2 linked regions of the Homo sapiens genome follow. The protein of the gene in region 2 binds, or shares a complex with, the protein of the main gene of each other region. Each region holds a gene or a part of one and is shown on either strand. Other genes may lie near its edges. The genes, in order: INHBA and ACVR2A.

Evidence for each region.
Region 1: the proteins of ACVR2A (region 2) and INHBA are in contact, whole or in part, in a crystal structure (PDB 7U5P), measured with the Homo sapiens proteins. Residues at the interface, in NP_001265508.1 of Homo sapiens: Asn36, Asp53, Lys56, Phe61, Thr63, Lys65, Val74, Lys75, Cys78, Trp79, Leu80, Asp81, Asp82, Ile83, Asn84, Val100, Phe102; in NP_002183.1 of Homo sapiens: Ile340, Ala341, Pro342, His346, Arg397, Pro398, Met399, Ser400, Met401, Leu402, Tyr404, Asn409, Ile410, Ile411, Lys412, Asp414, Glu421.

The regions. Positions count from the first base shown.
Region 1 is NC_000007.14:41,697,051-41,711,667, forward strand, and holds the start of INHBA (inhibin beta A chain preproprotein), read right to left. Parts: upstream 6,041-14,617; 5' UTR 5,955-6,040; intron 3,468-5,954; 5' UTR 3,325-3,467; coding exon 2,937-3,324; intron 1-2,936. UniProt on the Homo sapiens protein: Inhibins/activins are involved in regulating a number of diverse functions such as hypothalamic and pituitary hormone secretion, gonadal hormone secretion, germ cell development and maturation, erythroid differentiation, insulin secretion, nerve cell survival, embryonic axial development or bone growth, depending on their subunit composition.
Region 2 is NC_000002.12:147,833,679-147,849,338, reverse strand, and holds the start of ACVR2A (activin receptor type-2A isoform 1 precursor), read right to left. Parts: upstream 4,311-15,660; 5' UTR 4,187-4,310; coding exon 4,132-4,186; intron 1-4,131. UniProt on the Homo sapiens protein: On ligand binding, forms a receptor complex consisting of two type II and two type I transmembrane serine/threonine kinases.

The sequences.
Region 1 (14,617 bases), on a different chromosome or scaffold from region 2:
TTGACCACCTACTGTCATGAGTCAAAATAAAATAAAAATAAGCTGCATCAGCTGAAAAGGCCACTGAATTTAGCTTCATGACATTTATAGTGATAGCTTGGCTTTACCCATCCCTTCTATCTTTCCTTGTGAAGAACTCTGTAGGCCTTAAGGTAAAACATTGAGGGTTTTGTGCCAGCCATGCAAAGAACACACTAACCTTGGTGAGAAATCTTGGGTGATGTGACATATATAAAAATAAAATAATTTTTGTTTGTTGGGATACATTTCAGAGAGCCTTAGAGTGATTCCCTGCTGTTTAGTCAATAACAACTCGCATCAACTTTACAAAAATTGAGCACTTTCTACCTAAACAGGATGGGACAAACTCAGTTAAAAGAGTCCTCAGCACTTCAGCTTTTGGAGGCTCTCTACTTCTGTAGCCAGGCCTTGGCTTTATCCAACAATCAAGGAGAGAAAAGGCAAAAATTAAACGTAGCCTCAAATTGAAGAATCTTGAGGTTGAAAGGGGCTGCTATGGGTCTGCATCTGTGGCATGCTCATGGGTGACAATGTCTGGATTCTATGCTGCACAAAATGGTTATAAGGGAAAGAAAAATGCATTCCTTTTTCTATTCTCCAAAAACTCTTGACATTCCACATAGTTGGAATGTTATTAAAGTTGAATTATTCCAAAAGCAACAAGACATAGGTCTTTTCTATTCATGTTCATATATTTGCTACAATCATTTGGATGATAAATGTCTTTTCTGGACTAGCAAAATCAGCAGCAAAATGCTCACGTGGTTTTCTGCTTGAAGAGTAGACAGTCCATACAGCAATCATTAAATACATGAAATTACATTAAATCAACTTGAAGTTGATGTGTGAAATCCCTCAGAGAAAAATAAGCAATTGTAATAAGTGTTTTCTAAGAATCCAAAGTCAAGTTGTAAAGTCAACCAGGAGTTTCCCATTACAAATCTTAAACTTGACTCAATGTGAACGTCCAACGAATCGCTTTTTCAAAAGTCGCTCATTTTTTTTCAAACTAAACACCTAACTGAGAAGTAAAAAAATGACAAGATCTCATACAACTGAGAGAAGACTGTCACAGAAAGGAAGACCACACATAAGAAAGAATGTAAATGGTCAAATTTTTTCACTGCCAAATCTCTAAATGCTAAGAGAGTGATTTGCTATACAAGTCCAGTAAGTCAGAAAGAGGGGCATATTGCTAGTAACGGTAGTGCGGTTAAAAGTGGTCAAAGGCATAGGTATACTTAGTCATATGACATGGTTAAAGGCAACTGGATACGAGCTGTCATTGAATCCATCATGTGTGGAGGTTGGTATACAAAGACAGGAAGCAACCCTCTAGACCACTGAAATCTGTTTCACATGCACAGCCAAATATTGTAAATATTTTCTTTTTTACCTTTTCCCACCATGAAAAGTTGAGAAAAAAAAATGGGTGTCAACTTGAAAAGTTCCAACCTAGCTTTCTTCCTCAAAAAGCTCCAGAAGATAAAGTCCTAATGATCATGCCTTTTGGGGCTGGGTTAAGAAAGAGCTTTAGGGAAAGAAAGTAGGATCTTCCCTAAGTGAGAGAGGCTTCTGGTGAGAGAGCCAAACTGGGAAGCTTGTAGGACACCAGGGCTTCTCCTGCAAGGGGAAGCCACACAGCCAGCAGGCTATCTGCACCCCCGGAAAGATGCCCTGGTCTTTCATGGTTTTCTTGAAAACAGAACATCTGAGTCAACAGGTTTTCAGATTGGAAATTCTGAGTGTTGCCTTAATTGTTTATACTGCTGCGGCAAACTTTTAAACAAAAATGCTGGGAGTCCCTGCACATACTTTACTGGCCATATGCTCTACCAAACAAAACAATGGCATTCCTTTCAAATGGAGTTGGCAAAGGATGCAATTCTTTAGCCTGGCATTACCATGAAAGTAACACGGTATTAACACATCTGTGTGCCTGACGTGCATGGGCTTGCAGGCATGCAAAGGATCTGTGTCACTTAACTATAAAAATAGCCTGGCTCCAAGTCCATGGGCCCATACTTTTGACAGGTATTGCTATTCAGCAACAGGTTAGTGTGGTCCTGGGCCAACGATTAGAATCTATTTATTAAAGTTCTTCCTCTTAAGGATTGAGTGAGTTCAGCGTAGTATCTGAGAGTACTTTGTCAAGGTTGCGTTCCTTGGCAGAGAGCTCTTAGTAACTTTAGAAAGAACAAAACTGGTTGTTTTATTTATTTTTTTTTCTTTCAGAGAGCAAAAGTCAGTGTCCCAAAAGTAACTGCTGGTTCAATGACAACTGTCCCCCAAAGTAGCTCTTCCCTGTCTTGAATGTGGTGCCTGTGCACTTATAGACATTTTCTAAAGGTAAAAATGACTGTCACTCATAAATATGCCCTGCTTCTCCAATGTGGCCCCAGATTGGACTTTTAAAGGGGAAGGTTTGTTTTAAGAGAGTGACTTCATCTGTGCCATTCCACTCCAATCCTGGTACATTCACCCCTCTACCCTCAATAAAAACTTGGATGGGGTCCGGAAGCCTCCTCTGCTCCCCTAGCACCCGAAAATGCCGCGGCTTTCCTCCGGCTGCTCAGATCTGGTTTCACAGGCAGGGCAAGGCAGCCCCTCACAGTCTGCCTTCCAGCTCAACATTGGCCCCGAGCTTCCTCTCTGTGTGACCCGCTGGGTTTAGTAAGTGTAAGCCAGTCATCTCCAGGCAGAGCTCGACCGAGAATTCCTTTTCTGTAAAGTCCTCTCCCCCTCCCCTGCCTGCCCTCCGTCGGCTAGTCCGCTACCATCACCTAATAACTAATAACCTTCCCAGGCAGTTTCCAGCTGAAGGGAAAAGAAGTTCCTCCTGGGACTGTCAAAGAAATATATTTTACCCTCCCACCCCCCACCCCTCCCCACCCCCTGCCAATGCCAGCACCAACCTGACTCGGCAAACGTGATGATCTCCGAGGTCTGCTCCATAAGTTCATTCATTTCTGCCCTCCTTCCAATGTCATCCTCTATCTCCACATACCCGTTCTCCCCGACTTTGCCCACATGAAGCTTTCTGATCGCGTTCAGAAGCGCCGCCTTGGGTACCGGCTGGGTGACATCGGGTCTCTTCTTCAAGTGCAGCATGTTTAAAATGTGCTTCTTGACGGCCTCCACCATCTCTGGCTGAGAGTTGGGTACATCCTTTGGGAGGGCGGCCAGCGCACAGGACGGACAGTCGGGGGCCGCGCTGTGCCCCTCGGATCCTGGGGTGGGGGAACTCCTCACTATAATCCAGCAACTTGCCAACAGAAATCCTCTCAGCCAAAGCAAGGGCATCCTGGCAGCAAAAGTTGTTGTGATTGCCTTTTTAAAAGGCCCTGCTTTTCCTCCCCCCTCACGCGCAGGTTTTTTTGTGTGTGTGGATTTTTTTATTTTTTTTTTTGGTGTTTTTTTTTTCCTTCTCCTCTTCAGCAAATTCTCTGGAACAAGAACAAAAAGTTTTCTGTGAAGTTTTGTTTGCAGGTTCCTCTCTGAATGCAGTCAGTGCTGTAGGTTTGTGGCTGTCAGGGAGGAGAGTTCTGACTGTCTCCGAGTAAGAGAGAAGGAAGGAGGGAGGGAGGGAGGGAGACAGGGAGGGAGGGAGAGACAGGGTGGCGGGGAGACAGACAGAGACAGAGAGAGAGGATGGGAGGGAGACAGAGACAGAGAGAGAGGAGAGAGGGGGAGAGAAGAGAGAGGGAAAGAAGGGGGAGAGAGAGGGAGAGAGGGAGGGAAGGGAGGGGGAGAGGGAGAGAGGGAAAGGAAGAGAGAGAGAGAGAGAGAGAGAGAGAGAGAGAGAGAAAGGATTGGCCCTAAGTAAGTGAGTGAATGGAGAGGGAGGGAGTTTGCTGTGAGTAGGGCTGTGATTAGGGAGGGAGGGACAGCCCGTTTTCTGACAGGCTGCTCTCCTTCTGCTCTTAGCTTCCTCACAGACACCTCTCTTCAAATATCACCATTTTCGGGGGTTCTACTTTCTCTTCTAAAATAAATTATCCTAATTTTGTTCACTATTTTTTTTTCTTTCTCTGCCCAGTCTCCTGGTTTCACCTTCTTCCTTTTTTGGAGGGGAGAAAAGAAACCCCAAACAAACACAGTGTCTCAATCAATAGGGATGAATTGATTGAAAAAGTGTTCCCACCGCCCCTCCACCCAGCCAAGCCACAGCCCTAGGTGGTAGAACGCCCACCTGGCCACGTGGTGGGGCAGAGGGTGCAGGGAGGTCCAGTGGACAGGTAGTGGAGGTCAGGGAAGAGGGACTCAGGGGTAACAGAGGATTGTTCTGGCCTGATGGGATCCAGGGGAGATGGTCCTTTCCCCCAATTCATTCATATTTAAATGTTCAGGTCATCAACACTGGCAGGCAATCTGAGGAGAGCGCAATGGAACTTTTGTTTGGGGTCATATAATACACTCCACTCTTCCCAACTGTGAAATGCAGCAGGGCACTGAAGGACCAGAGGGCAGGCAGCCTGTCACAAGCCCAAGTTCCAGAAGCGCTTTCTCCCCGTCGCGTTCAGCTGCCCCCTTCTGCCGGGGACCCACTCACTCTCACACATTACAGCCTACCACCACTCGCCGGACTTCACAGATAAAATGCAAAATTCTCTTGGCCTTTCCCACATCCTTTTATAAAAAGAGTGCACTCGTATGACTTGAATAACTGGTCCTATGGGAAAAGACTCTCTAAAATATATTGGCAAATTATTTTTCTCTGTCATGTGGTAGTTTTTTCAGCTTGCCCCAAGCCTGTCCCGACCAGTGCATTCATAGACAGCCTCCTTGACTGCTTCTTTTTCCCTCAAAGGAACAGTGCAGATGAAATCATCATGGATTTTAGTGTGCACAGAAAAAGAAAAATGTGAATTTTTTAACAATGCCTTTCTAAGGCTTAAAAAAAATTCTTCCCCCTCCCCTCTTTTTCATTTTCTGTCTTATTGCTTTTATCTTGCAGAAGAATCTTTAAGGGGTCCATCTGTTAAAGCGTTCCTTCCCTCTCGGTTTCTTTCCCACACATAAGCCCTCTTGGTTTCTGAAGATACACTCAGCTTATATCTGACACCTAGTGTGTTCATAGCATTACAGTCAAGCAATGCAGTTTAGGTGGAAAGAGTTAATAAATATCATTACTACAAGATAAGATCTGAGTGCAAGGGGAAGAGGGCAAGAAAATTGTGACACTAAGTTATAATTACAGTTTGCACAGGTTAACAATGCTTTCTGAATTATATATACTGTCCCCTTTTCCAAAACAACTATTTGTAAGACTTTTTCTGTTACAAGTAACCTAACACCTTTGGGGTTTCAGCTCCAGAAACATCAATTACTCCACCATTATTGTTAAAACTTTGTCAACATTGCCTAAAAAGCCTCATATTTTTTACGGGGATGGTGAAAGAGAATGGGGGAGGCAGGGGACATTTGTGTTACAATGGTTTTATAAAAAATCTTTGTGCTATAATACTTAACATCATCCACCTATTTGGAGTCACATATACAGTACCCAAAATGTTTTGCAGTTCAATTAAGTTTTACAAGAAAGTCTGAAATACAACCAAAAGTTTAATGGCTCTAAACAACTCAGGAGTCCTAATAGCAGCATTTAGATAAGTGCAACTTATCAATATTTGGATTCTCTCTGCATCTGAGTATGTGTGTGTTCCCTGAATTTACTGTTTGCGAATGTAACTCTTAAAAATAGCTTTCTCTTTGGCATATGTACTTGTATATATGTGCTGAGTGGCTTGTATAAACATATAATCTATTTGCATGCTCTAGGACTATTAAAAGCTGTATTAACCTGCCTGAATAATATAAAAAGGTACACATCACAATGCACATTGGAAATGCCAATTAGTTGTAAAATTCCTCCTAGCTTTCCTATCTTTGAATGTGTAAAGAGCTCAGAAGTAAGAGTTAAAAAGCATTACCTTTCTGGTCCCCACTCTTCCACCAGCCGGCTCTTGTATCATGTGGTAAGAGCTGTCTGAGCTCCTCTTCATGGTATTGGCACTGTGAAGTTTTATACTGTACTACTTATTTGTACACCACACATTGGTACCACTGAAACAGAGGAGGGCTGGGGCTTTGTTTGGGATTGGTTGGAATCAGCATGACATCAGCGGATGACTGGTTTTTCCAGTGTGAGACATTTCATAATTCATTATCTAATGGAAAGCCCTTCCTGGCTTCTGAGACACTACTGGGTGATGCACTGAGCCAGTGAAACCTCTGGCTAGGATTACTCTACCTTTTAGAAAAACATTGGAATCAAATAGATATGTCTCAATGAGTGTGTCCAACTTTCAACTTTTACTACTCGCACACACGTCTCGTTATATTCAGGTTCAGTTTTATGTCTTTACATAAAACATCTGTTACTTCATGAAGTTGCTTCTATTTACAAAGTATTTTATTGTTTCTTTCAGGAAAGAAAATTGGTAGTGTTCTTTATAGGGATTCTAATTTTATATTTTTAAAATAAGCTATTTCATTGAGGAAAAAAATTGGGAAAATCTGTATAATCATATGATGATGGTCTCCCCCGACCCCAACCAACTTACACTATTATTTTACATCTTGAAATTGAATGCCTGCTTCATAAATCAAGAACTTTGGAAATAGTAATTCTCTTTAAATGAACTTCATAAGTATCCTTCCCAGGTCTTTAGAATCTCATTCTAACTAACCAAACACACACACACACACACACACACACAACAACAACAACAACAAAAACCCTCATGCATCATTCTTTTTTACCAGAACTTCAACTCCTATAATTTCTAAATTGTTACAAATATAACAGCAGATTAATGAAAAGAAGTGAACACTCCTTGAAATAGGGGTAAAGCTGGTCAGGCTTTTTTTGTGGGGGAGGGGTGTTGGCAAGTCTGGTAAATAACACAGGAGGAAGGGGTCCTCTGACAAGAACGGTGAAGGGTTGTTTGAAGGACTACAGTTGAAGCATAAGCCCAGTTCTCATGACAAGTTGGATAAAATGTGCAAAATTGGGAGCTAATGAGAGCCATATGACCAGATATGTTGTTTTGTATGCAGGATTTAACATGCATAAAATAAACTTTTCACTGTGCCCACAAGCAAAATATAGAGGCTCTGGCCTCCTGATGTGTGGCTTAAGCAGGTTCCATTAGGACACCAGAAGTTTTCTGTGTAAAAGGGTCTCTCTTGGCTAGATACAGAGAAAGTGTGGGTGCTGAGCTGCATGGGGGTGGGGGGAAGGAGTATTCTAAGAACTGCATATGCAGAAATGAAGTAGGAAAAAAATCATTAGGTTGTAGAGGAAGAGAGTGAATCTGAGTGGCGAAGACAGAAATAGGATTAATGATGGTGAACTCCAAACCTGCCCCTCAGCTTAGCACTGGGTGAACTCAAACCCTTTATAAGAAAGAAACTTCTCCACCCTTTTTGCTGAGAATTAGTGGAGTCAATGACCTTCAGGGCATCTAAACTCACCCCTGACCCACACATGAACCCTAGTGTCCTGAAAACATCCCCTCCGCCTCCACACAAAGTAGTGTGTGTGTGTGTGTGTGTGTGTGTGTGTGTGTGTGTGTGTGTGTAGGTGACGTGGGGTGGGGGTGGGGGGCACAAAACAAACCCAGATCAGATCCCAGTTCCTCTGCTCACTCACCGTGTAAACTCAGGCCTCAGTGTTCCCATCTATAAAATGGGATCCATGATATGAACCTGTGGGGGTCAAGTGCAGCTGTCAGATAATAATAAGTGATACTATTTCTGAGAAGCCTGGTGGCTGTTCTTAAACATGGGTGTCACAGGAATCTGCAGCTCTCTGACCAGAGGAGCCACAACACAAGTGTGACTCTGAAACTCCGCTGGCCATCTGATGCCACCGAGTGCCCACCTGCCAGGCCAGCCTACCAGCCGTGCTGCAACCCCTCTGCAACCACCTGCACCACAGTGGCAATGCCTCCTCCCTCGGTGCAAATCAAGGTGGGGGTGGTGGAGGAAGCAGGCAGGTTAAAATAGCTTCTGTGGAATATTCTAGACTGGGAATCAGCTTTTCCCTGCGGAACTCAAGGGCCCGGGGCACAAGCTGGTCAGCCCAGTCCTGACCAGAATCTCCTTCTCCTTCCTTGGTTTGGTTTCTCTTTCACTTCCCCCTCCCCCGGAGCTTCCCCGCACCCCAGGCCCTTCGGGTCCCGGCTTCTCGGCCCTGCTACTGTACCTTGAGCAGCACCTGCTGGCAGCTTCCAGGGATCACGCCGGAACGCGGCCGCTGCTCGAGCCCAGCTCGCAGGATGCCTGGAGCCAGGGCCAAGCCGGTCTAAGCGGCAGCCTCTATTTTTACCCTGAGCACCAGCAAGGGCAACTTCTTTTAAGAGCAGCTCTTGATTTTTTCCCCCCTTTTGGCAGCTAAAGAATTCAGGGAGGGGAAAAAAATCACTGTTCAGTGAGTGCAGCTGGGAATCTCTGAACCCAGCCCTCAGTGCCAGGGAGTGAAACCACAGCAAATGTCAGGGAGCGGGACCTGCGGAGGGGCCGGCTGGCTCCCCGCGGACAGAGGCGAGCCGGGAGCGCTCGCGCACCAGCCAACTGCCCCCTTCTGAGTGCGGAGCGCGGTCCTCCAGCGACTGCACTAGCAAAGTGGCCCGCTGCCACCGCGTTATTCACCTAGTGGAGGCGGCCTGATTTACTGGCGACTTCACAAACCCAACTCCACGCTGGAGCATTTGCATGGCTCTGTTCTCGCCTCGAGGAGCAGCCACTAGCGAACCCGGTGGAGCAGCTTGCTGCGAGAAGGAGCCGGGAGGGAAACTGTGGTACCTTATTTTACTGTAATTGCAAAAGGAACGATGTGCCAGAGATTTATATTTAGAAGTTGTATGTTTCTACTTTTATGTAAATGGAGCAATTAGGGCCTGTCTTGCTGCTGCTAACTCCAATGCGTGTGCATTGCTGGGGAGCTGGTGTTTTCAATCACAATTAGTGAGCTGGTCAAAAAACAAAGTTCGTTTAAGGATAAGAGCTCAATTGTGCGAATGGGGGAGAGGCCAGCGTTCGTGTGCTGGCCCGTGGCTTACGGTGACACCTAGCTTAGGGCCACGGCCAACCCTATAGTGGTGTTTACCTGTGGCAGCAGCTGTCCCTGTTCAAAGTTGGCATAGATGAGGAAGCAAGAATGTTCACTTTTCTTCTCAAACCGTCTGTCCTTCAGCTTTCATCCACGCTATTAACTGGTCTCTTTCCTCACTACTCCTGGAGCAAGGAGACAGGACCAGAAAAGGGAGTGGGGGTTGGGGCATTTTTCAGGGCTCTATTATTTTAGCTGCTGCTCACGGATTGCTGTTATTCAGTCAAAAATACAAGCCAGGAGACGCGAACGCCCCAAGCAGGTGACTGGGATGTTGTTCTCTGATTCAGCTGAAATGACACAAGGCTGGGGGTTCAGAGGCACGGACAAGAGTGCTGACGAGTCACGGTGTTTTCTTTCCTTCCTATGAAAAAATCTGTTTCCAAAAAAGCATGATTTCTGGTTCATCCCGTCTGGGAAACCGAACATAAAACGTGACTATGGAGAGAAATCAAAAGGACTCGAGGTGTTCCCAGCAGCTGATGTGTTATTCTGGGGCTCAGGCCGGAAAACCTGGCCTTGTTGGTGAGGGGTGACTCCCTCCAGAGGCAGCTCAGAATCCAGAGAACGTGGGCAGGATCCAGAGTACTATTTGCTGCAGGGAGACTGCGAGAGTCTGTGATGAAGGGTCTCATCAAATGGTTTAAATCGAACATGGGATTGGCAAACCCTGCCTGTTTCCTGGACAGCCGCAGCCTGTACATAGCTTGGGCTGAATGTTAGGTAGAAAGATTTGGGACAAAGGAGAATCAGCGTTTCACGTTCAAAATTGAACTGGGAAGCTGTTTTGCTTTTAAGTTAAATCAATGAATGAATAGATCGAAACAGAGAGAGAGAGGAAAGCATTAAAAAGTCCCCTGAAATTCATTGAGAACAACAGGGTCAGAAATGGTTAATCTGAAACTTGACTCGTAAGCTTCACATTTCTTTCAGAACCACCAGAATATCCCACAAGGCCTTCTGCTATGTAAGAGCACTCTGTTTTTAGATTATTTGGAAATGCTGCTTTCTGAACCAAGGGAACCCAGATACTAGAACTAAAACAATTAGGGAAAAGAGAAGGAGGAAGAAAACCCAGTAAGTAACCTATTACTCTTCATTCTACAGCAGTGGTTCTCAACCGGGGCGATTTTGCTCCCCGGGGAACATCTGGCCATGTTTGAAGACATTTTGGTTGTTACAGCTGGGAGGGAGGTTCTACTGATCATTAGTGGGTAGGGCCCAGGGATGCTGCTGAATATCCTACCATGCACAGGACAGCCCCCAACAACAAGAAATTACCTGGCCTACAGTGTTCATTGTTCTGCAGTTGAGATACCCTGATTTCATATTATAATTGTAAAGTTTCACTCAACCTTCTCCCTATCCATCTCCAAGAGGCCTTGGAAACCAAAAAAAAAAAAAAATTGCAGCTCTACAAAATACTAATAATTCAAGTGATTCTGCTTCCTTTTGCATCTTATGTTTTCTGATTACTGGAGACTACAGATACAATGTTCCTCTTGGGCAACCTCGTTGTTCCAACCAACTTTCACGTATGGTCTCAATACATTTTCCTGCTGGCTTTTTGTTCTGACCTAAAGCAGAATCTTGGTGACCAGCAACAAAATGAGATGGGCTGGCCCACACCCAAGTTGTTAGGAGACAAGAGACTCATGCAAAAGAGTAAATGAATAAAGGATTGAGTTGTTCATTTTAGCAATTCAGTATCAGATAAATCCATGCAATAGAGAATTCCCTGAAGTAAAATTCACAAACGTAGGATAACCATGCCTTTCTCCTAGAGCAAACAAATATGATGTAGCTTGATTTTATTTGTTTAATACCTTAGGGGAATGACATACAATCAATATCCAAAGAGATAAAACAGTGTTTTGCTAAATCCTAATGGCTGTTGCAAGCAACATTATATTCTCCAAACTTCCTTTGTAAAAGGAAGTGGTGTGTCTATTAAAGGAAGGCCATGCCCTTCCAGGTGTTGCTCTCCTGTGAGGACTGGGGAAACTATTGTGAAGGATTCCATCTCATGGAAAATCGTAAGAGTAATCAACAAGTATTGGTGAAATGCACAAGAGGGAAGTTGCCTGGATAAAACTAGCTTAGAACTGAAATCCTGTTGTCCATACAGTGAGTGCTTACTTCCCTGGTTCATCACTTAGCTCCTGAGTAAAATGGGTCATCCAGAAAGGAAAGGGTAGGTCAGAGATCATTTTAAGATGAAGGGAGCCATGAGGGGAATGTCTTAGACACTCTGACGCCGTATCATCTCTTCCAACGTGTGAATCACTGTCTCCTCAGGTAAATGGTCATTTTGGAACCAAAGGCCTCAATCAACTTTCAAATGATTCAGAAATGCCTGGACTTCTTCCCAAGAAGTAACCATGTAGTACATGTAAAAAAAATTCAATATTGAAAGAAATACTCATTTACAACCACTATATAAAAACATATATTGAAAAAAACCCAGACTAACTCAACCTGAAGAAATATGCCCTCAACATTCTTCCTGACCAATATATATTTCAAAATTGTTTATCATGACTCAGTTCTAACCCAATCAGGAAACATCTGCTTCAACAATTTATCTTCCTATTGCCTCAGAAGATTATTGAAAAATACCCCCCAAGGAATGCGGAACAGATTGTTGTAATCATTTTTCTCACCTGGATCCCCTTGGGTAATAAGTTCCATTGGTGACTTGAAGACATGGTGGTTTAGCACGTAGATTCCATTGGACTGATAAGAGAGCAGCAATCTTGATTTGCATCCACTTTTGCCTGTCCACAAAGATCCCCCCACAACCTGTTCCCAAATCGCTGCTTGGAGGGAAAAAGCCCGACAGAAAAGCCTGGGGGCAGTTCTGTGTGTATTTTTTTTAAATCAGTGAATTGCTGCCTCCCTCGTGTCCTAATAGAGTCCAAAGGTTCTGCCCTCTGTGGGAGCAGCTCCAAGGCATGGGCTGAGTGCTGCTGTTCACGAGTCCTGTGGACTCGCGTGGACACTGGCAGCAGCTCAGCTAGGTGAGTAAATATTTCCAGGTGGCCCACTCTAATTTTAGGAAGGTCAAGTTTGCAAAGGTGAAATAGCAAGTAGGACTTCTGTCACTTTAGATTGGAAAAGCAAACTGTAATTAAGCACAATATTCTTACAAAGTTTAAAATGGAATCACTGAATTCTACAACCAGCTTTAAACTTTCAAAAAATAACTTATGGCTACAATCCCTCTTCTACTCATTGAGTTCCTCTTAAAAGATGGAAGAGTATAATGAATGAGGGAGGAGCCTCTATAGTAGAAGGAAAAAAACACTCCAGAAAACCTCTCTCCAAAAGGCCAGGGGTTCATTTGTGATCCCTTAATGAAACAGGGGCAGAAAGCCAACAAGGTAATTTTGGCCAACTCCAACATCACTTAACTATGAGCTGAGAATAATTAAAATGGTGCTCCCTGTAGAAAAGAGTTCACCCAATAAGTTTCCCAAATTTCAAGGAGCTTTTGTTTTATTAGATGCTGTTATCTTCATGTTAGTCACAGGAAAAAAAAATGCCCACATACACACGCACAACTAAATGTAGTCAGTTTGCTCAGCTGCTGCTGACGTCACTGCTGCCCACTAGGAGTGAGTTACTGTCATAACCCCTCTTTTATTAATCATAGGCTGGAGGAAGCACAAAGTGAGTGACATCATTAGGCAAAGGACCGGCTAACTCATGCTCCAATTTACTCAGCTTTATTATAACATTTCTCGAGTGTCATATGAAAGTGATTACCATTTCACACTTTCCCCATCTGAGCAATCATCCCTAACCTTCAATTCAAATTCCCAGAGAAAAGCTTAGCTTTTCAGATGGAGGTGCATAAAGGCCAAATCTCACTAAGGGTCCTTGTCCCAAGAAGGAATGTCCTCCTCAGAAAGCCTTCTTCCTGGGCTTGAAACAGAGGCAGTTTCTAGAACCACTGGATACTAAATAATTCTCCATTGTCTCTGGCCCTGGCGGTGGCCTCTGACTGGAGAAGATCCTGACAGTCCAAATGGGTGCAGCCAAGTATGGCCTCCCAGTGACCAAGGGCACAGCCACCTCAGTGCTCTGAAGTATGCAAAACACCATTTGAAGATGAGGCAAAAGGTAGTGGTTGAATGTGTGGGTCCTGCAGTCAGACTGACTGGGTTCAAATTTAGGATTCACCACTTTCAAACTCCTGGGCAAATGACTTGGTTCCACAATTAGTATAATAAATATGGATAATAATATTCATAGATAGGATTGTTGTCAGGGATAGCTGAGTTAGTCGTGTGAGCCGCATAGAATGTGCTGGTACACAGTCAATGTTGCTTACTGGTATTATTTCTCTTCCTTTTTTAAAAAAGCTTTATTGGCTGACCTGAATTCCCTGCATCCTATTTTGTAGAGCCTTGGAAAGATGGGCAAATGCTCTGTGACAAGCCACCAGGGTAGACTGGTACTGAAAAGACCCTACTACACACAGGGGCTCTGTCCCTGGCTGGAAAGTTACAAGTCAGCCTACCTCTCTGTGATCTGGTTTCCACACCTACTACTCTTTATCCCATGAGGAGCTTCTGGAAACTAAAATAGGTACGTAATCAAAACCAAAAGAAGACATTGGTTCAAGGATCCTCAAGAGCTCAGCATCATGTTTCTGTTGTTTCTTTTTGAATAGACAAAATTCTCAGTGTTCAGTAGCTACACACACACACACACACACACACACAAACACACACACCCCACACACAAAAGTAGCATCTCCACAATGTTGCATGCATCAGGAAAGCAAATGTTTTTACCACAGGCTGGCTATGCCTCATCCTCTTAAACTAGCATCTTGAGGTCTTTGCAGAAGCCATTTTATAGATGCCTACACTCATCCCATTACTTGCATTCTCATCCTGAGGGTATTTTAAGGAGTCAAAATAAAGTTTACTTAGGCGTGTGTGAGAGACAGAATGATAGACCAAAAGAGAAGGCTAGGGCTTCGTAATATTTAGATAATGATGAAACTGAAATGGCTGATGCAGAGTGCAGTAATTATATAGGATACTTTATTATTTGGGTTCACCTTTGCTCAGTAGTGAATTATAAGCACTCTACTAGGTGAGAGGTTTGGCTTCCAAAATGAACAGCTGGCGCAGGATGGAACTGTCAGACCATGTCACATGATAAATAAAATAATACATAGAAACTTTAGGATCTCCTAATTGGAAGCTTCCTTTAGACAACAAAAGATGCCAGGCTATCTGCTGCCCCCTAACTGGTACCATGAAGAACAGCACATAACTTTTTAAGAAACAAAGTCTGATTCAGGTACAATTAGTTAGTGGCTGAGTCAACCTCCTAAGTTATAGTTGTGAATTTGGCCATTTCCATGAACCTGTTTGTTGCGATTAAGGCAAAGTCATCGGGTAGAGTCTGTTTTGTTTCTGTCTTTTCCTGATGGAGAGGCACTCCTGATTTGCAGCAGCT
Region 2 (15,660 bases):
ATGTTACACACACACACGAATACCGCCATAAGGCAGCCCAATGATGTCAGTAAAAATAAAGGCAAATATCCTTAAAGATCATATCATGGCAAAGAAAATCCTGGATCTAAAGCAAATATAATTAAACTTGATACCTTAACCAATCATTCATTATGTCCAGGAACATGCAGTCTTCATGAGCACTCTATCAAAATCGGTGATAGGAGAGTTTATCCATAAGTCATTGGAATATTTTATTATAGTATAAAATATTATACTATACTGGTGAATTCTCAAGCATTTCATCAAGGATGAAAGAATGTGCGTATCTATAGTCTGTTTCTCTAATTTAATCATATTCTAATTTAAAAGATAATGAAAAGATAAAAATCTTTCAATACAACGTTACCTGGAGATCATCAATACCATGTACTTGTAAAATTTAGATTACTAACTTTAGGGGGAAGAGAGCAGAGCCCTTTTACTAATAAACTACTGCTTTTAAAATTTAAGAGTTTAGAACTGAGTTTTTCCTTTTTTTTTAATTTGTATTTTAGGTTTGGGGGTACATGTGAAGGTCTGTTACATGGGTAAACTCGTATAATGGGGTTTGCTGTGCAGATTACTTCATTACCCAGGTATTAAGTCCAGTACCCAATAGTTATCTTTTCTGCTCATCTACCTCCTCCCACCCTCCATCCTTGAGTAGACCCCAGTGTCTGCTGTTCTGTTCTTTGTTTTCATGTTTTCTCATCATTTTGCTCCTACTTATAGGAACATGTGGTATTTGGTTTTCTTAGAACAGGGTTTTTTGACCTCTACACTACTGACATATTGAGCCAGCTAACTCTTTGTTGTGGAAGGCTGTACCATGTATTTTAGGACGATTAGAAGCATCCCTGCCCTCTACCCAACTAGATGCCAGTAGCACACCCCGTCCCCTGTTGTGACAACCAAAAATGTCTCCAAATGTCCCATGGATGGGGATCTGGGGAAGTAGGGAGGGGGACTCACCCCAGCTTGAGAACTGTTGGCTTAGATCATAAACAGGAAAAAAAAATAGAAAATGAATGGAGGGAGAATTTTGTTTCATTTTGTTTCTAGTCTCCATGTTTCAATGTATTATATTTGAATTTGACCACAGACACCATTTATAAGAGATTCTGCCTTTTAGAAAACAAAGTATTTATCATCCATCACTTGTTAATCAAAGTTCAAAAGAATCCCAAAAGATTCTCTGTAATGCTAACTCCCCCTCCAACCACACATACATTCACACATACACAGTACTGCCTAGCTGAACTGAAGAAAACATAATTACCATATTTCCATTTCCTCTTTCATCAAATACATTGACCATACTGCTCCAGCTCCCACAAAATCCAAAGGAATTCTCAACTTACTTCTATGCAACTCAAATACCACAATAGCTGCATAACTCTAGATAGGATAAATCTAAGTACTAAAGCAAGTATTAAAGTCATTCTCATACTTCAACAAACTGTGGGGAAAGACACAAATAAACCACAATGCTATAAAAAGAAAACTAAGATTTATGTTTTGAAACAGAATCTGAGAAAGTATGAGAGGAATGAAAAAATTCAAAATCAAAGGTAATCTGAAGGCACTCCAGGATAGGGGCAAAATTTAAAATGTTTCCCCTGGAATGAGAGAGAGGAGGAAATTATACACTTGGCCATATCCTACAGGAATAGTCTGCATAATCAGTCTCCAGAATACATACCATGGGATGGAAACTGAAAAATCAGAGTCCACGAAATAGTAAACATCCCTCCTAAACACCTGGAACAAAACTGTTCCTTACTATTGTTTCCCATTTTGATTTTTAAAAAAAATCAAATATCTAGAAATGAAAAACTGACAACCTGAGAATTTTTAAAATTCTCATAAAAATAGTCACCTCATGCTTCCAACATGTCAGATCACACATTTTGTAGAAAAATCAATTAGTTGGAGAAACATAATAATCCTTTTTTAGAGTGCATCTGATCCATAACAAAAGGCTTTTAAAAATCAGACATTTTAAGTACTCAAATTGTTCATGTATAAATATGGATTAAGGTCTTTATGATTATTTCAATTATCTTCAACAGAATCACATATTTTAGTTCAACTGGGAATGTTCATCTTAAAAAGCCTATGCAACAACATAATATTAGTTTAATATAAGTGGAATATCTATATGCCCTACAGCAACAAAATCACTTTATTTCAAAATTATAGCTATTAACCTCCTGGCCCACTGAAAATAATCCTGGCCCAATGAAAATAATCCCACAAGAAACTAATGCTCAATTATTTTTACTACCAAACCAAGCAGAAGAAGCTGTAAGATCTGTAGCGACAGCCTGCTTTTCAAGAAGTAATACCTTGAGACTGCTCAAGAATAACCTCCTTCATCAATTAGTGTGACTCAGGTGGGTTTGAGAGGGAATAATGTCCACAATTCCTTGGTCAGTGGCCATGATGCCCCTCCTCCTCAAGGGCAAGAGATCAGAACAAGGGATTTGAACAAGAGGAGTTCACCAGCCACAACATATAGAAGCAGAGGAAAAAAGAGTACTACTGGAAAGATAAAAACTACATGGTTAAGTCATGTCACAAAAGCAAGAGGTTTAATGTTATCAAGGCCTTCATTCATTTCAGACACACCATTGTTTAGCTTCCTTCCCAAACCGTGCACAAAAAGAACTGTCAGCCTGCCTTAAGCATGTTCCTTCTTCCATTTAAACAGACATGATTCTTTTGGTTAATCTCTGGCAATGATCGCCATTTCACAACACATTCAGCCCACCCGGAACTGATCAATACCACTACAGACATAAGACTAGACTTTATCCATTTATTAACCACAAGGAAATGTACCATTCAGCAAAATTCTATACATTACAAAAGATTATATTTAAAGGGGGGTGGGGAAGACGGACACAAACACACAAACACACACACACACACCCCACAGAGGTACACAAAGAAGACTACCACCCTTTAATTTTCCTGTGGCAAACGAGATAAAGACATGGCCATGAAACCTGTCAATTCGCCCCCGTTTCCAAGAGTCCCCCGTAATTCTATGCCACAAGCTTGTAACTGAATATTAAATTTTACAATAAATAGATCCAATGAGACTTATTTAAAATGTTTCATCTATTGAACTAACTCTCCTGTTATGTACATCTGCACACCTTTCAGCTAGATGCTGTATTTATTTATAGAATTTCAAATACAAAAGACTAGATAGTTTTTCCAACCACTGGTTGCAACCATAGAACGTCCTCACAAAATCAAAATTTCCAATATAAAATGGCCCGTTTATTCCCCCAACCTTGAGCTAAAACCTATTTTATGAGTGTACTATATTTAACAAAAACAATTTCACATGGGTTGTTCTAAACCGAAAACAATGCTTCAATACAAAGCGTTTAAAATAAGTATTCCGTAGGTAAGCAAAATCTATGCCCCAAAAGAGCACACAAATGGTGGTTGAACGCCAGCACATTACCAATACCAAGCGGCATACCTCTTCTGCACTGGGTTATAGTTAATACTCCAACAACAACTACAACTATTTTTAACACTGCTGGACGCTGAAGTTGAAGAAAACGTGAGGGGAGACCCAGATTAAATTGCTGATAGGATGTATTGTTTCCCACAGCCAAAATTAAGCAGCAACTGGCTTGATCTATGTCGTGATATTCACCGGTGAAGCACTAATTAAACGATGACAAAAAGCAACCCTTGTTTTGGAGGAGCCCACACTAAATACTCCTTTCAGATCTCAACCTTTGCATAAATTGTCACTTGTGGTATTTGCGGCTTAATTGCAACCCAACCAGCGCTGTCATCCAGTGTTATGGCCACAAAACATGACTTTCTCACTTCCACAACAACACAGCACTCACTCTTATCAGCTCGCCGACCCAACTCAAAAAGAGAAAAATGCATGGAGGTTTCCAGATCACAATCAGACCTGGGGGCGGGGGGGGGGGGCGGTGGCAGCCGAGGGGCGCAGGGAGTGGGCAACCTCCCCAGGCTCCACTGGACTCTCCGACTCAACACCAGCCGCGGCCCCCAGCAGCGGCCGCCGCGGCCGCAGGAGCAGCCCCACCGCGCCGCGCTCCCTGCACCTACCTGAAGAACAGGAGATAAGAAAGACGGCAAACGCCAACTTTGCAGCAGCTCCCATTTTCCCGAGGCGCCGGGGAATCCGGAGGAAGTTCTCGCTAGATATCCAGTTCCCTGGGTCTTCCTCGGAGACAAACCTCCTGGTGTAAAATCAACCGTCATAAAACATATTCGGAAGCCCAGACCAAAAAAAAAAAAAAAAAAAAAAAAAAACGCTCACTGGGTTAAAAAAAAAAAAGAAAAAAAAGAGCACAACGATAAAAAATAAAATGCACCACGGGGGAAAAACCGCCACACACACGCACAACACACAAAACCAAACAACGAAAAGCCAACAACAACAAAAGCGGGTTTAAATCACTGTCAAAATCACTGTCAGCTCCGCTCGCCTCTCCCGTCTCTCGGAACAAAACGCCAGGCTGAGGCGACGAAGAGGCGGCGGCGGCAGCGGCGTCCGCTGCCGCCCGGACAGTCTGGGAACTGACTGGGTCCGATGTCCGGACCGACCTTCAACCCAGACACCTAAAGTCCGAGGACCACTGGCGGCCGAGCTCGCGGCGGTGGCGGCGAGGCGGCTGCGGCGCGGGGAAGGGGCGGCGGGCGGCAGCGGCGGCGGCGGTGCAGGCGGCGGCCAAGTTCTGGTCCAGGCTCTGGCTCCAGCTCCGGGCTCCGGGCTCGGCCGCGTTTTCGGTCTCCTGGCCTCCGCCGGGCTCCGCCCCCCAAACTTCCGGTTCCGGCCCGAAGCTGGAAGCCAGGCGCAGCGGAGGAACGCTCGGCGGCAGCGGCGGCGGCGGCGGCGGCGGCAGCGGCGGCCGGGCGCAGCGCGCGTGCCGGGCCGGGAGCGCGAGGAGATTGTCGGGGAAGCGAGGCGGGAGCGGGGGAGGGGTGAGAGAGCGAGGGCGGGGCGGAGTGGAGGGCGAGGAGGCGGGGCGGACGGAGGCTCGATACCGCGAGGCCTCGGCGTCCGGCCTGCTTGGGCTAGAGATACCGCGACAAAGGGGCGCGGGCGCCTCAAAGTCCCTAAGCTGTGGCTGGGCTGTGGCCGGGCGAGTAGATGCGGGCTAGGCCGGGCACGACCCGTTTCCAAATCGCGTCCGACGGGCCTGTCTGGAGCGCCCACCCAAAGGGTCAGGAGAAGCCCAAGAGGAAGAGGACCCCGAGGTGGGGCGAGTGGCCAGGGACTTCTCCAAGGGGCGTCTGCGGCGCCCAGTCTTTCCTCTGGGGGGACGCCTCGTCCGCTCTGATACCGAGGAGTCGGTGGAAGGCGGACGTGGGAGCTGTTTCGCCGCGCCCGCCGAGCTGCCCAGGCGAGCTCGCGACGCGCGAGCTGGTGTGTGCGCCCCCAGACTTAGCACTGCGTCCCACCGCTGCAGCTTCTGCACACGCGTGCTGTCTTGGTGACTAGAAAAGAAAAAGAAAAAACTCACGGAGGAAGGGCTGTCCACCCGCTCAGGATATTCACGCCATTTATCACGATGCGCAACTTGAATCCATTCCCGCCGTTCCTTTTACACACAAAGCATTGTGTTGAAAACTGTTTTGCACGTAATAGGTGCGCAAATACTTGTTTACTGCGCTTTGAAGAAAAAAATGAGGATTTCGAACGACATATTTGATGATCAGACAAGTGATTACTTGTCAAAATTTTAGCTATTTAAGGGCCTGTTTTTACCCCTTAATCCATGTCGATTGCTTACAAGCTGGTGTGCTAGGCACGGAATGGGATCCAACAGGTAAAAATAGGATGGATCCCTACCTCAAGTAGCTTTTAGTATTTGCTGTATTCAGTTGGTTGCAGAATACAAACTAGAGACTATTGAAGGTAGTTGCTCTGTCATTTACCACACTTTAGTGAGCTTCGTGAAGGTAGAGATCTTGATTTTTTCCTTATTTTATTCCAGCACCCAGAAGTATCAACTAGCACATAAGTGCTTAATAAATAATTGTATAAATGACTAAGGGATGACTGCCTTTCTCTTAAATACAGTCTCTGTTAATGTACTCTACAAAGTTTTGGTTTTTAATAAAACAACTGTATAATATGGCTAATTCATGTTTCATTTGTGGTTTACTGATTCCCACCTTTTCCCACAAAGCCAAGTCTTCTCACTTATATTTACAGCAGTTTACTTCCTCTAAATTACTCTGTATTTCTGTCTATTAAGTTCATCCTGTAATTATCTGCCCATTTCTACAACTTATCAGGGTTATTAATAATCAACGTGGCTCTTTAAATCTCTCCAAGATTGCCAGTTCTCAAATCGTGATGCTCAGAATTTGACTGATGTTGGAACAGTTACAAAGTCCCAAGTCGGTATTAAAGGTGTCTGAATGATCTCATGTAGTTCTCCTATCTTTATGAGTTGGTCAAAGGAATATGTGTAAGCCTTCCATTTTCTGGTTGAATTAAGAGTTGTACTAACGGTTCTGGAATGGAAGAGTATATTTTACTCTAGAAACACTTGAAGTTCATTAGAGAATTTGATGTCAGTTAGGGTCAGGCCCCACTCTTGTCTTATCTGTGCATCACTTCAGTATTTCTTTAATTGTGAAGCCTGAGCAAGTGGAATAACTGGAATAGCGAGTAATACAACTGAAACTTGTAAATATATTCCTTATCTTACCAACTAAATTTGCCATTATAAGAACGAGAGCATGAAAATTATTTTTCTGTAGTACTAAAGAGAAGCAGCCAGTCTTCACGAGGACATTCCTTTCTAACAAAGACAGAAAACCCCATGGGAAAAGTATTAACAACCAGTAACGCAGCTATTCTGTTCCTAAATGTGTTCAATTACCCCTTCGTTTTTTTTTTTAATTCAAAAATAATGTAACCTAAAAAGACAAGGAATTGTGACTAATTTCCACCGGAGCTTCAAAGCTTAAAAAGAGGTAGCTACAGCTAACCCCATTGCCCTTCTTTCCTCCTTGTTTTCTAGAATCACTTTTTAAAATCCATAAATCCAACAACCACTTCCTAACACATTGCAAGGTGTAAAACCTGGTTTGGGAAGGAAAATGAGAAAGGAGAGGAAAGGAAAAGGAAACATGAATTCTAATCGACCAGAGCATCGGGCATTATGAGATAAACATCTTTAGCTAACTTCATTCACTTCCCAGCCCCAAGACCTAGCCTTATGGCCACTCCAATGCTAGAATTTGAAGTTCAGAGTCCTGCCAAGTTCAATTGAACTGAAAATTATTCCCAGGTGGAAGAATCTTGAGAAGCCAGTTCAATCTAGAGTGTTGGCTGGATGAGGAGGTAGAGGTAAATAAGTGACACAGACTGCTTCCAGAATAAAAGATTTCTTTTTGTGTTAACAAAGTCATGGCTCAAAAAGATGTGGAGAAGTTTAAATCTTCAGTTCTGAAGTAGAGCTGGAAATGAACTGGGTTATAATTGAACTTGCGTTTGGACCCACCAACAGACACTTCAGCAACACACGTCTAATCTCTTTTCCTTCATCTTCAGGAAGATGACTGAAAACCTTTGGAGTATGGAGGATGTTAAGTTCCCCTTAAATGAAGGACTTAGAAGCTTTCGTGCTGCTTTCTAGCTACTATAAAAATCTGTGTTCAGATGACATGGGCATTCTTGAAGTGGCACAAGTAACGAATTTCTTATATGCCAACGCTGTAAGGCATAATGCATGGGGAATAAATTTGGTAACTTGGTGAGTCCAAGGAAGGGAGAAATGATCGATGTATCTTTTATAAATATCCCCCTCTCCTTAAGTGCCCAAGGTGGGAAGAAAATTCTCTACATCCTAGCTTTTGCTGCTATTTATTCCTCCCCTTCTACTTAACGTCCATCTGTATAGCATTGCACTGTGCCAATGGGGTCAAAAAGACATATCGAGGAGGATAAGAATGTGGGAATGGATAAGGGGAAAAGTGTTAAGACAAAAGATTTTAGGTGAAGGAGAAAGTGAGTTAGAAGAGTTAAGAGAAACTGTGATGTAATATAAATCTCAACATCCCAACATCCCAAAGGTAATATTTGACTTTTTCTCCCCACTATCGCCCCCTTCAAAATTCAAGAAATGTGTAGGAAACAAAACTAATAGGCATAATTTGGCAAGGATTCTTTCCCACCCTCCACTTTAAATTCATTACCACAGGTGCTTAATTTTCTTGAACAGGTGCTAGGACTCAATTCCTCCCCAGGCTGATAACCACAGTGCCTACGCTAACACTACTGAGCAACTGTCAGAACCCACACCCCCAAGTGGTTCCAAATTATGGCGTTGCTGATGCTCCCCCATTGGTGGGTAGGAGGTGGGAAAGGTGTTGGTTTGGACAATAACTAGTAAGGGTGATGGCACTGGTTTTTAGTGTCCTAGGACTAGGATACTAAATACTCTGCAGGAGGTTGGGCATTTAGCATACCCGACAAAGAATAGTTCAGGATTTGAGATCTATTACCTTAAACCAATATCAAATGGAAGGATGATGGAGTAAACCTGCACTACTCAAAGTGTAGGTCTTAAGCCAGTGCTGGTCTCAAAAGATTTGTTACTAATATTTAATGAGATATGTATGGACACAGACAACAATTGTTCACAAAGTTTTGTAGAAACTTGATAATTACGTCTGTTGAAACTATAAAATAATTGAGCTTATATTTTATTGTTTTAATTTCAAGTGTTTTGTTTTTTGTTTTTATTTTTGAGATAGGTCTCACTCTGTCACCTAGGCTGGTGTGCAGTGATGCAATTACCACTCACTGCAGTCTTGACTTCCCAGGCTCTGGTGATCCTCCCACTTTAGCTTCCTGAGTAACTGGGACTACAGACGTGTGCCAAACATACCGGGCTAATTTTTTTTTTTCCATTTTTTTGTAGAGACGGCGTTTTGCCATATTGCCCAGGCTGGTCTTGAACTCCTGAGCTCAAGTGATCTGCCTACCTCGGCCTCCCAAAGTGCTCAGATTATAGGTGTGAGCCACTGTGCCCGGCCTCAAGTTCTTAGTAATTCAATTTTATTGTACTTTGACTTCACAAAGGTCTCACAGATTGGAAATTCATCATAGAGGATCTAAGAATGGATTTCCTACTGGAGTAGAAAGCAGACTATATACACAATTCTTTCTCAAAAAAAAATGGCCTTCATCCATTTTGACAAGTGCTTAAAATCTCGAATAAAGCTTTGATGTTATAGTCCTGAAATTTTCTATAATACAAGTCCACATAAGGGTCAGTCATTTTCATTACACTCTCTGTGGCATTCATCTATTCAACAAGTAATTATCAGATACAGAATTTGTGCTAGATTTTGGTTGTACAAGTGTCGAATGAAATGGATATAGTCTCCACCATCACTGAGCTGACAGTATCACGAAGAAGACAGGAAAACAGCCAGTAAACAAGTAATTCCCAAATGGAAAGGATTATTTATAAAAGCAGACAGAATGCTAAGATAAAGAGCAATGGGATAGTATAGGAAGAGGGGAACTATTTAGAGAAAATGATTCAGGAAGGACTTACAAAGGATGTGACATTTCAACTGAAACCTGGAAGATGAAAAGGAGATAACCATGAAAGAAGCTAGTGAAGAAGAAACAGTACAGATGATGTATTTAAGAAACTGAAAGAAGGCTCTCATGGCAATTAGGAGAGTAGTATGAATAAGGAGAGAGAGGAAAATAGGCTCCAGTCCATGCAACAGCCTATGGACCAAAGTAAGGTCCTTGGATTTTATTCAAAGTGAAGTAGCAATCCATTGGAGGGTTTTAAGTCAGGGAGTTGTGTGGTCTGGCTTATGTTTAGTAGATCACTCTGGCTGTTACATGAAGAACGAGTTGCAAGAGGTTACCAAAGCAAGCGGAGAAATTAGTTAGAAGGGCATTATAGTAAGTCAGACATGAGACGATAATATTGTAAACTAATACAGAAGGAAGTGGGCAGATTTAAGATATATTCTGGAAGACATGCTGATGGATTGGATGACTCCTACTTTTTTTCTTGAGCAAATGAGTAGAGGTCATGTCATTTATTGATATGGGGAAGATTTAAAGGGAAGAGATATTATAGGGCAGAAATTGGAAAGATGAATAGTGAAAATACTTAGTTTTAAAAATGTTATATTTAAGATGCCTGTGAGACACTCAAATGGAGATAGTGTAACATAAGCAAGTGGATCTACGTGACTGAAGTTTGGAGCAACATGCAATGCTACAGATATAAATCTGGGAGTTGTCACCATGCAAATGGTATTTAAGGCCATAGAAATGAATGAGAGTATCTAAATAGGGAGGAGAGAGAGAGAGAAGAATAAATGTAGCAATCAAGTGGAGGATTAAAAGCCAGGAAAGGGGATAAAGAAGTGGCAGGCAGAGATTAAATAAAAACCAGGGGCGACGGATGTCACATGTGGGCGTGTTTCACAAAAGGAAGATAGGGTCAGTGTTGAATCCGATAGAGACATACAGCAAAATGAAAAACAAAAATGTAAGCCATTGGATGTGGCATCATAGAAGGAATTAACATCCTTGAAAGTAGTTTTAGCAGAAGCTAGATGGAAATATTTGAAGTCAATGGTAAATGAAAATTTAGAAACATCAAAAATAACAAAGCCTTGGCCCGGCGCAGTGGCTCATGCCTGTAATCCCAGCACTTTGGGAACCTAAGGTGGGCAGATCACCTGAGGTTGGGAGTTCAAGACCAGCCTGGCCAACATGGCGAAACCCTGTCTCTACTAAAAATACAAAAATTAGCCAGGCGTGGCAGTGCGTGCCTGAAGTCCCAGCTACTCAGGAGGCTGAGACACAAGAATTGCTTGAACCTGGGAGGCGGAGGCTGCAGTGACCTGAGATCGCACCACTGCACTCCAGCCTGGACGATAGTGCAAGACTCAGTCTCAAAAATAAATAAATAAAAACAAAATACAAAAATAACAAAGCCTTAAAGACATTTGGCTATTTAAAAAAATCAAATAAATGGGGTGGTGGCTAAAGGGAAATGCACAATCAAGAGAGGATTTTATTTTGTTTCTCTTTTCAGAGGAGACATCATAAATTATATATGTAAACTCATAGGTATGGTGCCATAGGAGGAAAGATTGAAAATGCAGAAGAAAGGAAAACTGAATGGGCAAAATACTTGTGAAGGCAAGAAAGGACAAGCTTCAGAACATGAGAGAGTTAGGTTGGCCTTTGAGAAGAGAGTGGTTGTTCTCTTCCTCTTCCTCTTCTTCCTCCTCCTCCTCCTTTTGAGGCAGGAAGGGCAAGCAGAAGCAGATGAGTTTGCAGAAGCAGATGAGTTTACAGAACCGAACATTGGAGCATAATGGCAATCCCAGCTGAGGGCTCTTCTTTTCTCTGACATGTAAAGCAAGGTTTTCACCTTAAAGTGAAAGGGGCATGATGAAAAGGTATGAAAGAGTCCTAAGTGAGACTGGAGAGAGAGGCTTTATAGTGGAATTGCCAGGGTTGAGTGCCCATTTGAGATTGGTGACTCCAGTCTACCCAGCTGTGTGATTATTTTCTGCAACGTAGAGGTGTTGGCAGGCACGGAGAAGGCAGATGATTGAGTTCTTACATGGCTGGATTTATTAAGTAAGTGATTTTGAGAAAGTGAGGGGTAAAGAAGTTATGGGAATTATATGGGAGCCATTGGAACAATGACTCACAGAATTTGAGTTGGACAAAAAGAAAGGACAGTCTAGAAGAGGCTATGTGGATAGAAAGAATTGATAGGAGAATGGATTAGATCAGGAGTCCCCAAGTCCCACATCGCAGACCTATACTAGTCTGTGGCCTGTTAAGAACCAGGCCGCACAGCAGGAGGTGAGCATCAGGCCAGCAAGCATTACCACCTGCGCTCCACCTCCGGGGATCAGCAGCAGCATTAGATTCTCGCCAGCCCTATTGTGAACTGCATATGCAAGGGATCTAAATTGTGCACTCCTAATGAGACTCTAATGCCTGATAACCTGAGTCAAACAGTTTCATCCTGAAATTATCCAATACCCCCATGGAAAAATTGTTTTCCACAAAACCGGTCCCTGGTGTCAAAAAGGTTGGGGACCGCTGGATTAGAGAACTGACATCAGTAGGAGGATCCATTGCTTCTTGGCAGATATTTAAGCAAGTGAGCTAGAAGGATAGGAGCTATGGCCAGAGACTAGAAATTAACAAGGTTTTGGAGAGGAATTGTGTCTGATAATGACAATGGCCAGGGAGTTACCATAGTAGTGATAGAAAAAATGGTCACTGGTGATGAGGTGGTCCAAGAATTGGGATGTCAAAGTATCCAGGGTGTTGGATGAGTCAATCTGTGCTGAGATAAAATTATCATAACATTTTAGGAATAATTATTATTTAATACTCTATTTCTAAAGAATTATAAATAAGAAAAGAAAAATAATAGGTGTAAGTTTAATATTATTTGGTATGAATGTAAATTTTTGCACTTTGGTGACAGAGAATGATATAGAGTACTTTTTACCATTTTTTTTTTTTAAAGCCTGTAAGGAAAGAGCGATTGTTTTTTCTTTTCTTTTTTTTTTTTTTTAATTTTTGTTTTCTTAGGCTTAACTACACTGGATTTGCCCACCTGTTTAAGAATGCAAATTAAACAAAACACTTAACTGCACTTTATTGTGCTTCATTTTAACTTAAATCAGAAGAATTTTAATCAAAGCCATACTGAAGCTTTAGGGGAAACTAAATTGTAGGAATGTTTGCAGTGATTTTAACTGGTCAAAATACATTATGTGCATTTCTTTATATTCAAAAGCAGTTATTATTAGCTACTCCTGAAATGAAGTAATAATTTTATCCTATTTTCTGCTGAACAAATACAAAGGTTAAATGGCTTGCCCAGGGGCACAAATTGAATCCGTAGCAGAAATGGGATTATAACTCCAAACTACTGACTCAAAGCTTAGTCCAATGAGCCATGCTGTTTCTCAAGTAGTAAGCATATTAATTGTTCCTTCAAGCAGGAAAAAGAACTCTAAATGGAGCATGTCCCATCCAGAAGACCTATGCAACACAGTAAAAAGACCTACTTCTTTTACTTAGTTAAAACAAACAAACAACAACAACAACAAAAAACAAAAACAAACAAACAAATAAAACCACCCCCCGGCCACAGAACTGTTAAACTTGCCTTTTTGTTAAAGAGGAAATAACTGGTATCAATTTGAAAAGTAATACAAAATAACTGTTACAGAAAAAGCACTAAACTTTATAGTTATAAAACCAAAAGAATGTCTGATATTGTTTTTCAATGCTATCATTGGACCTGGGTTACACAGAATGGTGAATTTGCTGTATCAGATAAACACCAAGATAATTCAGGCATCCAATTTACCCTTTGTTATTTAGGCTAATCATAGAAAAATAGCAATTGTACAAATTTTATTTATTATTTGAATAAATGCCTTCCTGACTCATTTCTCTTATTTCAAGTCCACCCAGGTACATAATTGTTTTTCACTCAATTTTGACTCTGTAATTTTAAAACCACAAATGAGAAGATTATTGAAAGTAGATTCTTTTTAAATTGCAAATTAAAAGTAAATAATTCTATTTCCGCTTCTGGCTATGATAGAATACTTTGTATTACATTAACTCTCCTATTATGAACAACTATTTTAAAATAATTTATTCAACAACTATTTGAAGCCACTAGAGAGGAACTAAGGAAGACAGTACTGGGGGGACAAAGAACCCAGAGAGGAGAGAAGTATATTGAATTGAGCCCCACATTCACCTAAGCTTTTCACTTTGGTACTTGCAGATACATGGCACGAGTAATAGAGGCTAAGAAGAAAGTAGCAGTCTGGGCTTATGTAGTTTCACTGGGTTAGGGAGACAGATGTTGGAGTTTGAGGTGCCAAAGTGATTAAGACTTGAGGAACTAAGGTCCAGGAGTTGAGAAAACCAAAAGGGAGTCCAAAATTCTGTGCAATATCCCTTCAAGGCAGTGCTGACTCCTCAACTATGCAGGGTGAAATGTAGAGAAATTAAGGGTAAAGGAGCAAGCTGGAGGTTAAAGAGTTTAGCCAAGATTTTGCCAATTTTGGAGACCTTGGGAACCAGAGATGGGAATTTGGGGACCACCAAGGAGGGAGAGTCCAAGTAAAATACCTCAGGATTTCAGATGAGAACTCAAGAAGACTATTCTTTGCAAAGTAAAGGCTAAGCTTTAAGATTTAGGACAAACTGGAAGTTGATGAGCCCCCTAAAATCTGAAATCCAACATGACTAAATTGGTATGATAAATCCATATATTATACGACTGATGGAGCAAGTTATATTCTTTCTGGAAAAAGATAACTTAATGGAGAGTTTTTGCAATTTTTCACAATACCCAGCATTCATTAAAAAATTACCAGCCACGTAAAACATAGGGCCAAATGGAAATGCTGTAACCAAAATTAGAAGAATTATAATAAATTAAAATATGGGTATATAGTAGATCAAGCACGGCAAAAAAAAAATAATGAATTGAGAGGAAGGACATAGTAAATACTCAGATTTAAGGATAGAGAGTAAAAAGGATAGAAAATACAGAAGAGATCATAAGAGATATGTAGGACAATTTAAGTTCTGACGTATCTGTAACTGGAATCCCAGAAGGATAGGAGAACATTAATTGAACAAAAGCAACATTTGAAAAGCTGTTGGCAACTAATTTTACAAAACTAATGAAAGAAATCTAGTCATGAATTCAAGAAGCTCCACAATCTGTATTCAGGATAAATTTGTTTATAAATACACCTAGAACATTGTAGTCCAACATCTGAAAAACAATGATAAAAATGAAATACTAACAATAGAGAATAAATACACATTACTTTCAAAGGAGTAAAAATAAGACTTAGTGCTGACTTTCCAATGGAAACTATGGAAACAATGGAATGACATCTTCAAAGTTCTGAAAGAATACAATTGCCAAGCAAGAATTCTATAATCATAAAAATATCCATCAAAAAGGAATGTTAAATAAGTATATTTTCAGACAAACAAAATTGGAGCAAGTCTGTTGCTAGTAGACTCACACTAAAAGAGAATGTAAGGATTTTTTTCGTTTTTATTTTTGTTTTCTTTTTTTTTCTAGTTTCTAGACCTAAGCTTAATGTTTCATATTTAAACATGGAACTGCAGAAAAATTAATAACACAGGGAAGGGTAAATATATGAGTAAATCTAAATATAAACAATAGCAGTAATGTATTACAGGTTTTAAAAATAGATGTAAGATTAAAATACATGACAGCAATTGCACAAAAAGTAAAAAGAGAGTATTTTAGTCAGTTCAGGCTGCTATTACAAAATATCATAGATTGTGTGGTTTAAACGACAAGCATTTATTTCTCGAAGTTCTGGAGGCTGGGAAGTCCAAGATCAAGGTGCCAAAAGATTCAGTTCCTGGTGAGGGCTGTCTTCCTGGCTTGCAGCCAGCCAGCCACCTTCTGGCTTTGACTTTGCATGGGAAGAGACAGAGAGAGAGTGCATGAGTGTGCAAGTGAGCAAGGACTCTGATCTCTTTATCTTCTTATTAGGGCACTAATTCTATCATAGGGC